Linked DNA regions of Homo sapiens: region 1 is linked to region 2. The links come from fine-mapping of genetic effects on gene expression. A gene starts in region 2. The other region holds a variant in brackets. All regions are shown on one strand. Distances are from middle to middle. Region 1 has its middle 75 kb from the start of CTNND2. Region 2 holds the start of CTNND2 (catenin delta 2).

Evidence for each region. PIP is the estimated chance that this variant, and not a neighbour inherited with it, causes the effect.
Region 1: its variant is fine-mapped to the expression of CTNND2 in coronary artery (GTEx, PIP 0.95).

The regions. Positions count from the first base shown.
Region 1 is chr5:11,976,493-11,981,876 of GRCh38, reverse strand. No RefSeq gene overlaps it. Among named protein-coding and RNA genes, the nearest start is that of CTNND2, 75 kb to the right of the region's middle. The variant CA/A (reference allele first, on the strand shown) is at 2,830.
Region 2 is chr5:11,901,849-11,907,232 of GRCh38, reverse strand. CTNND2 (catenin delta 2) reads left to right here and starts at 2,787. Exons shown (of 22, transcript NM_001332.4): 1 at 2,787-3,416. The coding sequence starts at 3,380.

The DNA of each region.
Region 1 (5,384 bases), 75 kb before region 2:
AAAGTAGAATGTGGAAGGATACTCAAACCAAGGAGATTATTCATTGTTGACTTTGAAGATAGACAGGGCTGCATGGAAAGGAACAGAGAACAGCCTGTAGGAGCTGAAGGGAACCCCAGTCTCACAACCAGCAAAAGAACAGAGACCCCAGTCTATAGCCACAGGAAACAAATTCTGCCAACTACAAGAATGAGCTCTGAAGGGGATCCTTCCCCAGAGCCTCCAGATGAGACCTTTGCTCAACTTGGATTTCAACCTTGTGATACCCAAACAGAGAACCACTCACGTTGGGCCAGACATCTGATTTAAAGAGCTGAGGGATGACAAACGGCTCCTGCTTTCAGCCACTCCATTTGGGTAATTTGTTACACAGCAACAAAAACTAAAGTCCCCAGGTCAATCACCTTAACGTCCAGAGGCAAATTCTCCTGGAGAGTCTTCAGTGTTTAGACAACCCTGGACAGAGATACGCTTCTGTGCAGTAGTTTCAACCTTTGGAATTTTTCTAATGGTATATTTAACAGTAGGTGTTACTGTTAAAGATATACACACACATATATAGACACATGGATGCATATATAAAAATATATATGCATATATAAAATATATATTAAAATATTATATATATAATATATATAATCCATCTCTTAGGATTGCTTTGTCATTTATTGCAGCCTGGCCCCATTCCCCCAAGTTGGTAGCTAATGATCTAAACCAGAAGTTCTGTTTTAGTCCATTCAGCCTGCTAAAACAAAATACAAGAAACTAGGTGGCTTCAAAACAACAAAAATTTCTTTCTTTTCTTTTCTTTTCTTTTCTTTTTTTTTTTTTTTTTCTGAGATGGAGTCTCGCTCTGTCGCCCAGGCTGAAGTGCAGTGGTGCGATCTCGGCTCACTGCAAGCTGCGCCTCCCGGGTTCACGCCATTCTCCTACCTCAGCCTCCCCAGTAGCTGGGACTGCAGGCGCCCACCACCAAGCCCAGAACCTCGTCTCTACTAAAAATACAAAAAATTAGCCGAGCGTGGCGGCGGGCACCTGTAGTCCCAGCTACTCAGGAGGTTGAGGCAGGAGAATGGCTTGAACCCAGGAGGCGGAGCTTGCAGTGAGCCGAGTTCACGCCACTGCACTCCAGCCTGGGCAACAGAGCAAGACTCCATCTCAAAAAAAAAAAAAAAAAAATTTCTTGTGGTTCTGGAGTCTGGGAAGTCCAAGATCAAGGTGCCAGCAAATTTGATGTCTGGTGAGGGACTGCTTTCTGGTTCATAGATGGCGCCTTCTCACCCCGTCTTCAGATGGTAGAAAGGGTGAAAGAGCTCCCTCAGGCCTCCTTTAAAAGGGCACTAATCCTATTTCCCAGGGCTGTGCCCTCACAATCTAATCATTCCCCTAAAGGCCCCACTTCCTGATATCATCACCTTGGGGAGTCAGGATTTCAGCATGAACTCTGGGGGGACACCAACATTCAGACCATAAGAAGTTCTGTAAGTTTTCTGGCTGGTTGACTGAAAGGTCAGAAGTGTTTCCATGATAATACTAAGACCTTAGTTTTTTGCTTCACTTATTCTCTCACAAATATACAGTAGACTTTTTCGGAGGCCATATTGTGTGCAATTATCACAACAGATTTAATGCAGAGGCAGCTGAGAGATCTAGGTATCTTCTAGCGAGGCAGACGTTTTTTAAATTAAAACAATGCCACTCTTCCCACAGTTATTTCTCATTTTGGCAAACATGATTGTTTTCTATAGAAATGTTATTTATCTTAGCATGCAATAGATGTTCTACCGCTCTTTTTAAAATACTTAATTGTACATAATGATATTTATAATTTCTCAATATTAATTGCTTACATGGGAAATATCAACAGATGCAACCCATTAAGCAAGTTTTTTTTTGAGTTCTCGATATTGTTTAAGAGTATAAAGTAATTTTGAGACCAAAACATTTGAGAGTTTCTCATCTAAATCCTTCCTCTTACTAGATGCATTCATAGTTCACTGAATGAATAAAATAGATTTTATACTGTACTACTGGTTGATTTTGTGACTGTGAATTCCTATACCTTTTATTTGAAAGTACTCTAGAAAAATGCAGAACTTAAAATAGGCATACCTTTGATCCAGCAGTCCCACATCTGAGTATTTAGTCTAAGGAAACTAAGTTGTTATAGGAGAGAGGGGGGAAATCTTAGTAACTGTATTAATCAGGGAAGGTTAAGCTTATATTCTTATAAGAAAGAAATTCAAAATATTGATGATTTAACAAATGAAAGGTTTAAATCTCGCTCACACTGTATGTCCACAATGAAACTGAGGGTACTCTGCTACAAGGACCCACCCAGAGACCAAGGAAAAAATAACAACTATTCAGAATATTAGTTTAGCTATAAATATATGAGCTCCATTATGCAAAAACTAAGTCACTGACACATTTGTTATGTTAGCACAATATTCAAATATACTATACTAATGTTGTGATAAAACTCAACTACTTATGTGGAAGAGGTTAGAGAGAAGTCATAGAAAAGTATTTGATTTTTTAAAAAAATACAATCTGAAGTGGAGGTCTACATTATTGTCAGTTGCTTATTCTCTTATTTCATCAACCTAAATATCTCATTTTCTTTCCCTTTGAATAATATTCTGCAAAATGTACCCATACTTGTCTTTTATATCAGTTGAGTTTTAAAGGAAATGTGTTTTAGACAGGAAATTTTGGATCATGTTCAAAAAAATAACATTTTTGCAAAGTTGCTTTGACAAATAATTAGATTTGAAATGTGTATTTAAGTTTTAGACTGGCAATTGCTGCCTAGCAGATATTTTAAGC[CA/A]ATAAAGCACAAGTAAATTGTACAGATGACAGGTCTAAAAGTTCACAACTTTTTATCCAACAGTCTATTGTTGATGGAAGAAAAAGTAGGTGACATTTTTGAACAGTGGTAAGTTTTTTAAAACATGAGATTTTCAATTATTTTTTCAATCTAAAATTCCACTTTTTAGGTAGAAGACAGATACCAGCAATGTTTTTCATAAGAGTTGTTAACATGAGTTACATGCTTAAATCTGAAAGTAACCCATCAATCACATTTATATATATCACAAAAATATTATGACTCCACCAAAAAATAAGTCTAGATTCTCAAATCATCTTTCATATCAACTATGCTTATCAAGGAAGAGTTATTACAAAAATAGTCTTTTGAAGGTCACAGGTATTTGAGTTTTCCTAGATGTTTATTCATACAACCTAAAATATGGCTTCTGCTGACATGGCTTTGCCCAGCAAACCAAATTACACAATACACAATGTTACCAAAGCCTGTTTTTTGCTTCATTGTTGTTGTTGTGTGAAATCAAAATATGAAAACACAATCCTGATTTAAAAAAAAAAACTGCCATTTGACAAATGCCACAGTAATAATTATTGCAAAGAATCATAAATAGGATGCTAAAATTAGTGAGTTAAAAAATTGTAAGAATCAGGATATTTGCATAGCCTCAAAGTATTGCCCCACAAGATATTAATTAGAAACCACATTACAGTGGTTATGCTTGGAAGACACCAGCAAGTGATAAAAGGTAACCAGTAATAAGATGGAGAAGGTGACGTGTTCTTCCCAATATCCTACACTCAGAAGGGTAGACATCCCTTTGTGGTATTTGTGCTAAAAATAGATAATCTGAATTTAATCGTAAGGAGATAGCTGACAAATCTGAATTCAGAGACATCCAGTTAAATAACCAATACTTCACAAAGGTGTCAGTCAATGTCACAAAAGACAAAGAAACAGCTGACATTTGGGAGGACTAAGGAGACAGAACAAATCAATGCAACAGGGATCCTGGATGGCAATCTGGACCAGTAACTTGAATAGATGGTCAAAACATGAGTGAAGGCTGTAGATTAGTCAATGGCATTGTATCAATGTTAATTTCCTGGTATAATTTCCTAGTACATATGACACCAAAGGCTATGAATAGATATGTTATGGAAGAATTAACATGGCAAATAAAGTTATAAAATGATGTCCAAATTCACTCACAGGTAAAGGAATGAAATATAAAATGATATTGAGAGCAAGCTTTACAAATCAAATTTGCAAAATTTAAAAACAATATATGAATAGCATGTAGGTGAAGGGTTGGGAAACAGGCAATCCCTTATATGGTTGATGCGTTTGTCAACGGGGATAACATTTTGCATGGCAATTTAACAGTATCTAGCAGAATTTCAAAAACACATGCTCTTTTATTCAACAGTTCCTCTGCTAGGAATTTACAGTACTTGTCTATTCTCAACAGTATCCTAAGGATGTCTATTTCCTGATAGTAGAAACTCCATGAGCAAACAAATTGTTTATCCCCTGCCAAGTTCTTAGGAGAATGTGGCACATACTCAGTGCTCACTACATGCTTGTTGAATCAGTGAATGTATGAGTCAATAAATGAATCAATCAATCAATCAATTGTAGCATTGTTTGCACAGCACAAACTACATACACATGCCCATTAAATAATCTATGATACCTCATGTACTATATAATATATAGTAGTTTAGATGTCTTTTTAAATAAGAAAGATCTGTGTATCTGATTTTCTAGATATTCAAGTTTAATACAAAGCCAGCTCTTAACTATCTATTGACAAAGCTTTACTCAATAAATCAGTATCATTTTTTGGTTTCCTTTTTATTGTCCCTTGAACCCATAATGTGGGCCATTTATTCCATAAACTTTGGATGAAATTTGCCGAGGTTTCATAACTTTTCCAGTCAGAGACAGATGACAAAAAGACTTAGGGTCATTTTCAGACAAGCAACCTTCTTGTTTTTGAATTAAAAGTCCTATGGAGTCAATTCCATAGTTTTCCCATTTGAGACTCCCTCTCACTCCCAGCTGAGGCCTGCTTCTGGGAGTGTGGGTTGGAGGAGGAACTCTGGGAGCCGGGAAGAGTAGGCATCCTTGCCCTTCTTCTTTGCTACTCCCTTCCCTATAGTGGCTCTGAGTTTTCTCCATGAGAAGGGGGACAGGAGGAGGGAAGGGGCTGAGGGCCAGACACAGATGCAAGCCTGGTGGTGACCTCTGGATGTGGCTAATATCCCATGGTGATTTTGTTCTCTCTTGTCTTCTTGGGAGGCTCTCTTGTGCTCAGACTGGACATTGCCTGGTACCAGCTTCCCCTCACCTTCTGCAGGTCTGGGTCTCAAGCCTCATGTGGGAAAGTCCTTCCAGGCTGTTCTCATAGAGCTATGGAGGAGCCCCAGGCCAGCCCCAGAATGAGTTCACATGTGATTGAGTGTGTAGACACTTCCTTGGCCACTCCTGCCCTGGAGTAAATGGCTTCTCTCAGGTGACCTCAGAGGCCTACTCCCATCCTCCCACCCAG
Region 2 (5,384 bases):
TAATCACTCACCTGATTTCATTTCCCAATTTGAAAATTTCTCAATTGTTTATCAATGGGTAATTCACTTAAAAAATTACAAAAATATTATCTTCTATTTGAATCTCAATAGCAACAAACAATGCCATATTGAAACAGCTGTGACTTAAATAAGAATGCCATTCTCCTAAAATCGACATACTTTGAATTACAAAATAAGACACATACATTTATAAAAAATATTTGGAATTGTTAGATTTTATTTCTAAAGTTAAGTTACACTTCCATATAAAAACGTTTGCTTCAAATTTTGAAAAGTGATTTGAAAAATCAAGAGATATAGCATTTAGTATTTATATGTGATTTCTGTATCAGATAACTCTATTAATGCATAAACAGAAGAAATACAATGAAGGTTTTTCACTGAGCATTGAGTACTGTAATTTGAAAATAATAAACTAATAATGTTCTAGTCTCATAGTGAATTTGAGGATTCAGAATATTCCTTTATATAGGAACTATCGGAAGCAGGAGGCAAAAGATGGCAGCAGTGAGTCGTTCCAAGATCTAACATTATACATGTTCATTTTGCTTTATTTTTCAATATTATCTAATTGTGAATTGAATAATATCTTAAGTTACAAATTATTCTAGAATAATAAAAGTCATAAATGTTTCAATGAAATGGGGCACTGAGCAAATGAAATCAAAGCAGTCCAGGACATTGGACTTTACCACTCTGCTTCCTAAATAACCATATCACACCAGCCCCAGCCCCAACAGTATCTGTAGGGACTGCCTCCAGCTCATTTCCCAGACACACAATTAGTTGATAGAATTTGTCATTGCTCATCTCGATAGTAACTAAAAAACGTTAGAAAATTATTTTCTTTACTTAGATCTATATCAGGCATAAAAGACACATATATTACCTGTGGATAGCATCTACACATCTACCTCCATTTTAATCTAAAGAGTAACTGATGTCCCCTCATCTCCCTTTCCACCTCCCCACTGACTTCTTGAGTTAGAAGATGCAAAGAGAAAACCAAACGATAGCAGACTGACAGAAGCTCAGGTGGGAACTAAGAACATCTCTTGAAATATAATGTGGCCTAATGGATATGGTGCTGCTAATTTGTCTTGTACCACGTACTCAGTGTAATTGAACTGCCTTTCTGAGAACTAAGATAAAAATTACAATTAAACGTGTGATGAAAAAAATGGTCTTGCATGTCTTCCCTCACAGGACTCAGGATATTTTAATATCAAACTGGCTTTAAGACACTTGGAGTTAGCTTGGAGAACTGTTTTTTGCAGGTGAGACAAAGCCTGTGTGTGCATGTCCACACCTGGGGTAGGAGGAATAAAAGCGAACATTTGTACTGTTGTCAATAGTCTGCTTAATCTGCTCCTCCTAGCAATTATTTGTTACCTATTTAACCTCTGTACCGCTTTTCTCCTTCACTCTTACTTCCATTTATATTTCAACTTACTCCCAAGTATAATAAAGAATAGACTTGAATATTCAAATCATTTAAGTTTGTTGGATAATCTCTTTCAACACAAAATAGAAGCACAATGTTACTGAGAATCGTAAGCACCAAATCCCTTTTATTACAATTTCCTGCATTCTGTCATGCTTATTTGTGTTTCAGAAACAAGCTCTGCGGGGGTGGGGGGGGTGGGGGGGGTGGAGGAGATCACAACCTCAGACAGTCTGCGGTGTTCAGGGTCATGCCCGTGGCATAATTAGGAGGAACATTCGACCTGGCCCCTGGGCAGGCTGTGCCCTGCTTGGCTTGGCTTGTGAATGCAGCAGACGTGAGCCCCGTCCTGACTGCTGCTGAATCAGAGGGACAGGGGCGAAGGCCCAGAGGCCTTCCTTGGCACATGTTTTGGGTTTCGTTTTTCAACAAGACTTTGAATACGGTGATTCCACTTGCTGTATTTCACAGCAGGCTACGCATGGGGAAGTCCCGATGGGGTCAAGGAGCAGTCAAGCCAGGAGGTGATATGGAAAACTGATTTGAACGTGAAGAAGGCAATGCGAGATGCACTGGAAGACTGTGGGGAAGGATCAGGGGAGTGGTTCACTTTGAAATAAGGAAGAAAAGGAGGAAGAGAAGGTGGCAGAGATGCAGCAGAAGATACCAAGAGAGGAGGACAAGGTGGCACAAGAAGGGGAGGAGAGAGAACTTAATCTGCTCAAGTTCCAGACTGGGCAAGGGTCTTTCTTGCAGGAAGTTTACAGACATTCCAGTTTCAAATCTGAAGTGATTTTGCCTAAGGAGAAACCCTCACTACCCGCCAAAAACATGCCATCTGAACAGGGAAGGTGATGGCAAGATTGGGCAGGTGCTGTGGAGAAGACCTCTGCTGGACTTCGTGCCTCCTTAGCTCTGGAATCACAGGATCTGCAAGAGCATCTACCTGCGCTCACCAGCACGTTCCGCCAGCCTCCCTCCCCCAACCCACCTGGCCACTCTAGGACCCCTCGCACCCTGGTCCTTTGTTGCAGGCTGACATCTGCCCCACCAGAGTCAACTGTCAGCGCCTTGCACGTGAATTAGGGAAGCGGAGTAACCTGGGGTTCCATCCCTTCCCGGGTCCCTTCCAGCTTTCGCCTAGCTCCGGAGCATCCACCCATCTCAGGTCCAGGGCGTGCGTTCCCAAGGATGCTCGGCCCTCTCCCAACCCGCGGCCTCCTCCCCTCTCTCCCGCGGCTGCCGCTGCTGCCGCGAAAACCAGGAGAAGTGGAACGCGCGCGGCGAAGCGCCGCTCTCGCGGCGGCACTGGGCATGCTCCGCACCCGGGGCCGGTTTCGGCGGCGGGGCGGACGCTCCCTCACTAGCCGGGCGCCCGGGCCGGCCGCCGAGGTTTAGGTGGAGGCTGAGGCTGCCGCGCGCCGCGGGAGGAGCCTCGCCCTCGGCGGCTGAGGCGGCGGCGGCACAGGTGGCGCGGGCCGCGCGCGGGGCGCAGCTCGGGAGCGCTCGGCGCCGGGCGCCGCGGCGGCCCCAGGCTCGCGCCCGCGGCGACAGCCGGCTGAGCGGAGCTGCGGGCGCGGCGGCTGCTCTCTCAGCCCGGCCGGCTGGCGGCGGCGCCCGGAGCCCCGAGGAGCCCGCAGGAGCCCGTGGAGCCCGCGGAGCCGGGCAGGGGGCGCTGCGCTCGCCGAGCTCGGAGGGGCCGCCGGGCCGGGCGCTGCGCACTCGCGTCGGGAGCCGCCTCTCGCCCGCGGCGCTCGCCCCTGCCGCCCGCCAGCATCCCTTGTCCCGCGGCCGCGCTCAGACAACAAAAGCGGAAGATGCTGCAGTTGGGCAAGGTCAGGACCTTGCCCTGAAGCCGGGCGGCGCCGCGCACGCCTCTTCCCGGACTGAGGAGCTGTCGCCGGCGGAGGGTGCATGTTTGCGAGGAAGCCGCCGGGCGCCGCGCCTTTGGGTGAGTTGCGGGGCTGGGCGGCCGGGGCCGGGCGCAGCCTCCTCCCGGCGCCGTCCTCCTCCTCTTGCCGCTGGTGGGGGTGGTCCTGGGCTCCCGGCCGGCAGGCGGCGGCGGCGGCTGCTGCGGGGTTTCTGCCTGCCTCGGGGAGGACCGCGATCGCGCCAGGTCCCCCTCGGAAGCCGCTGTGCCTGGAAGGGGGTCCGGGGTTAGTGCCTTTCTTGGAGCGGTTACCAAGTGGCTGCCCTGCGTGCTCCCCCTCCCTGCCACCCATCTCCCCGGGAGGAAGCGTATTTAGGGCAACACCGACAATGCTGCTCCCCGCCACCCTGAGAACATACTCGGTGCATTCATGACGTCCCTAATATACGGGAGGAGACGGGGTGGGGGTGGGGAGGACTTCCCTCCAGTCTTTTGCCCTTATGTTCAATGTCATTACGATGTTTGGCTAGAACAAAATGGAAAGACTTAGTCATATGCGTCCATGGCCGTGTCTTCAGGCTCCCGCGGCTTGCCAGACCCTGAGCCCCCTTGGTCTATATTTAGCGGCTTCCCAGCAAGCCTTTGCAGCCGGCTTCACAGGTTTCGGGGGCTTCTGCGTGCTGACAATAGACAGCCAGGCTCCAGAAAGCGCCGCCTGAAAGCCAGGTTTGGAAGGCTGTGCGTGTGTATGGGAGATGAGCGATGCAAAATTGGGGTGATCCGTAATTAATGGCTGAAAGCGAAGCTGCTTTTTTCTTTTTTTCCCGACCCTCATCTTATTCTGGTGTGTAGTGTGTTTTCTTCGATTGCCACTCGGCAGGTTGAGCCTCTGCTTTCAGAATTAAGTCACTAGAAAGGTGATGCAGCCTCCCTGGTGTTTGTGGTAGGAAAACAGACTTGGGAATTTTTGGGGTGTGTGTGTGTGTGTCACAAATAACAGTTACTTCCAAAATGCCCAAAGTTGTATTTTGCTGTAACCGTGGGGGTATGAAGGGTGTGGGAGATGAGAGATAGAGGGGCAGGTTGTGTTTCCAAGGTGTTTTTTTTTCTTTTCTTTTCTTGTGTGCCTCATTTGAGCTGATCTGATTCGCCTTAGCTCTGGCAGGTGTTATTAAGATGTATTTTTACTGTGCTCAAGCAAATATGTTGATTTAGAAAACAGAGAATGTTGTCAGCATAGTATTAGGCCTGACAGGTGTAAATTTTCACTTTTAAGAACTATGTGACCAATATTTAAGAGTCTTGGGATTTTCTGCAGTGACTTCCATGAAAACAAGGAGGTGCTGAAACTCCCTAGGAGTTATCTCATTGTGCATACTTCATCAGGGGCTGAAGCTACCGAGGGCAGTCCAGCTGGTCTCTGCTGCTGGTCATTCACCTACATAATGACAAGGCTTCGGGGCTGCACCACTTCTAAAATCCCATGGAGAAGTGTTTGCTGTGACTCATATCAAGTTATGGCGGTGAACCTGTCATTATTTTGGGGATTTCTGCTACGAGACGTGTGATATATAGGGGCGAGTATCCTCAAATACGAACTAGATGCTTTAAACTGCCCTCAAATGTCTTTTATTAGCATATGGTTGCCATACGGAGAATGTTCCTACTGTTGTTGGGGAAAAATGTTAAGTGGCATCATTACTGATCTGTGGGTTCCAAGGGCTCAGGGCTTGAAGGAAGACGATTACATTCGGAGTTAAGTGTTGAAATTTGGGAGGCCTTTGATTACACTAATCACAAGTCAGTGTTGCAGGAGGACTGGCAAGGTCTATACGGCTCAAGTTGATTGAATACTGTGATTAGTCTTTAGCAATATTGCTTTAGTTTCACCTTATTCACATTCAGGGAACTTTCCGAGAGCACTTTGAACACACCGTTATGCCCACTGCATTGTTTTAATATAAAATTTCTTTCAAAAGCAATAGATGAAGTAGCATACATGTCTCGTTTCCTTTTCTTTTTTCCTTTTGAGCCTAGTGTTTCATTCTT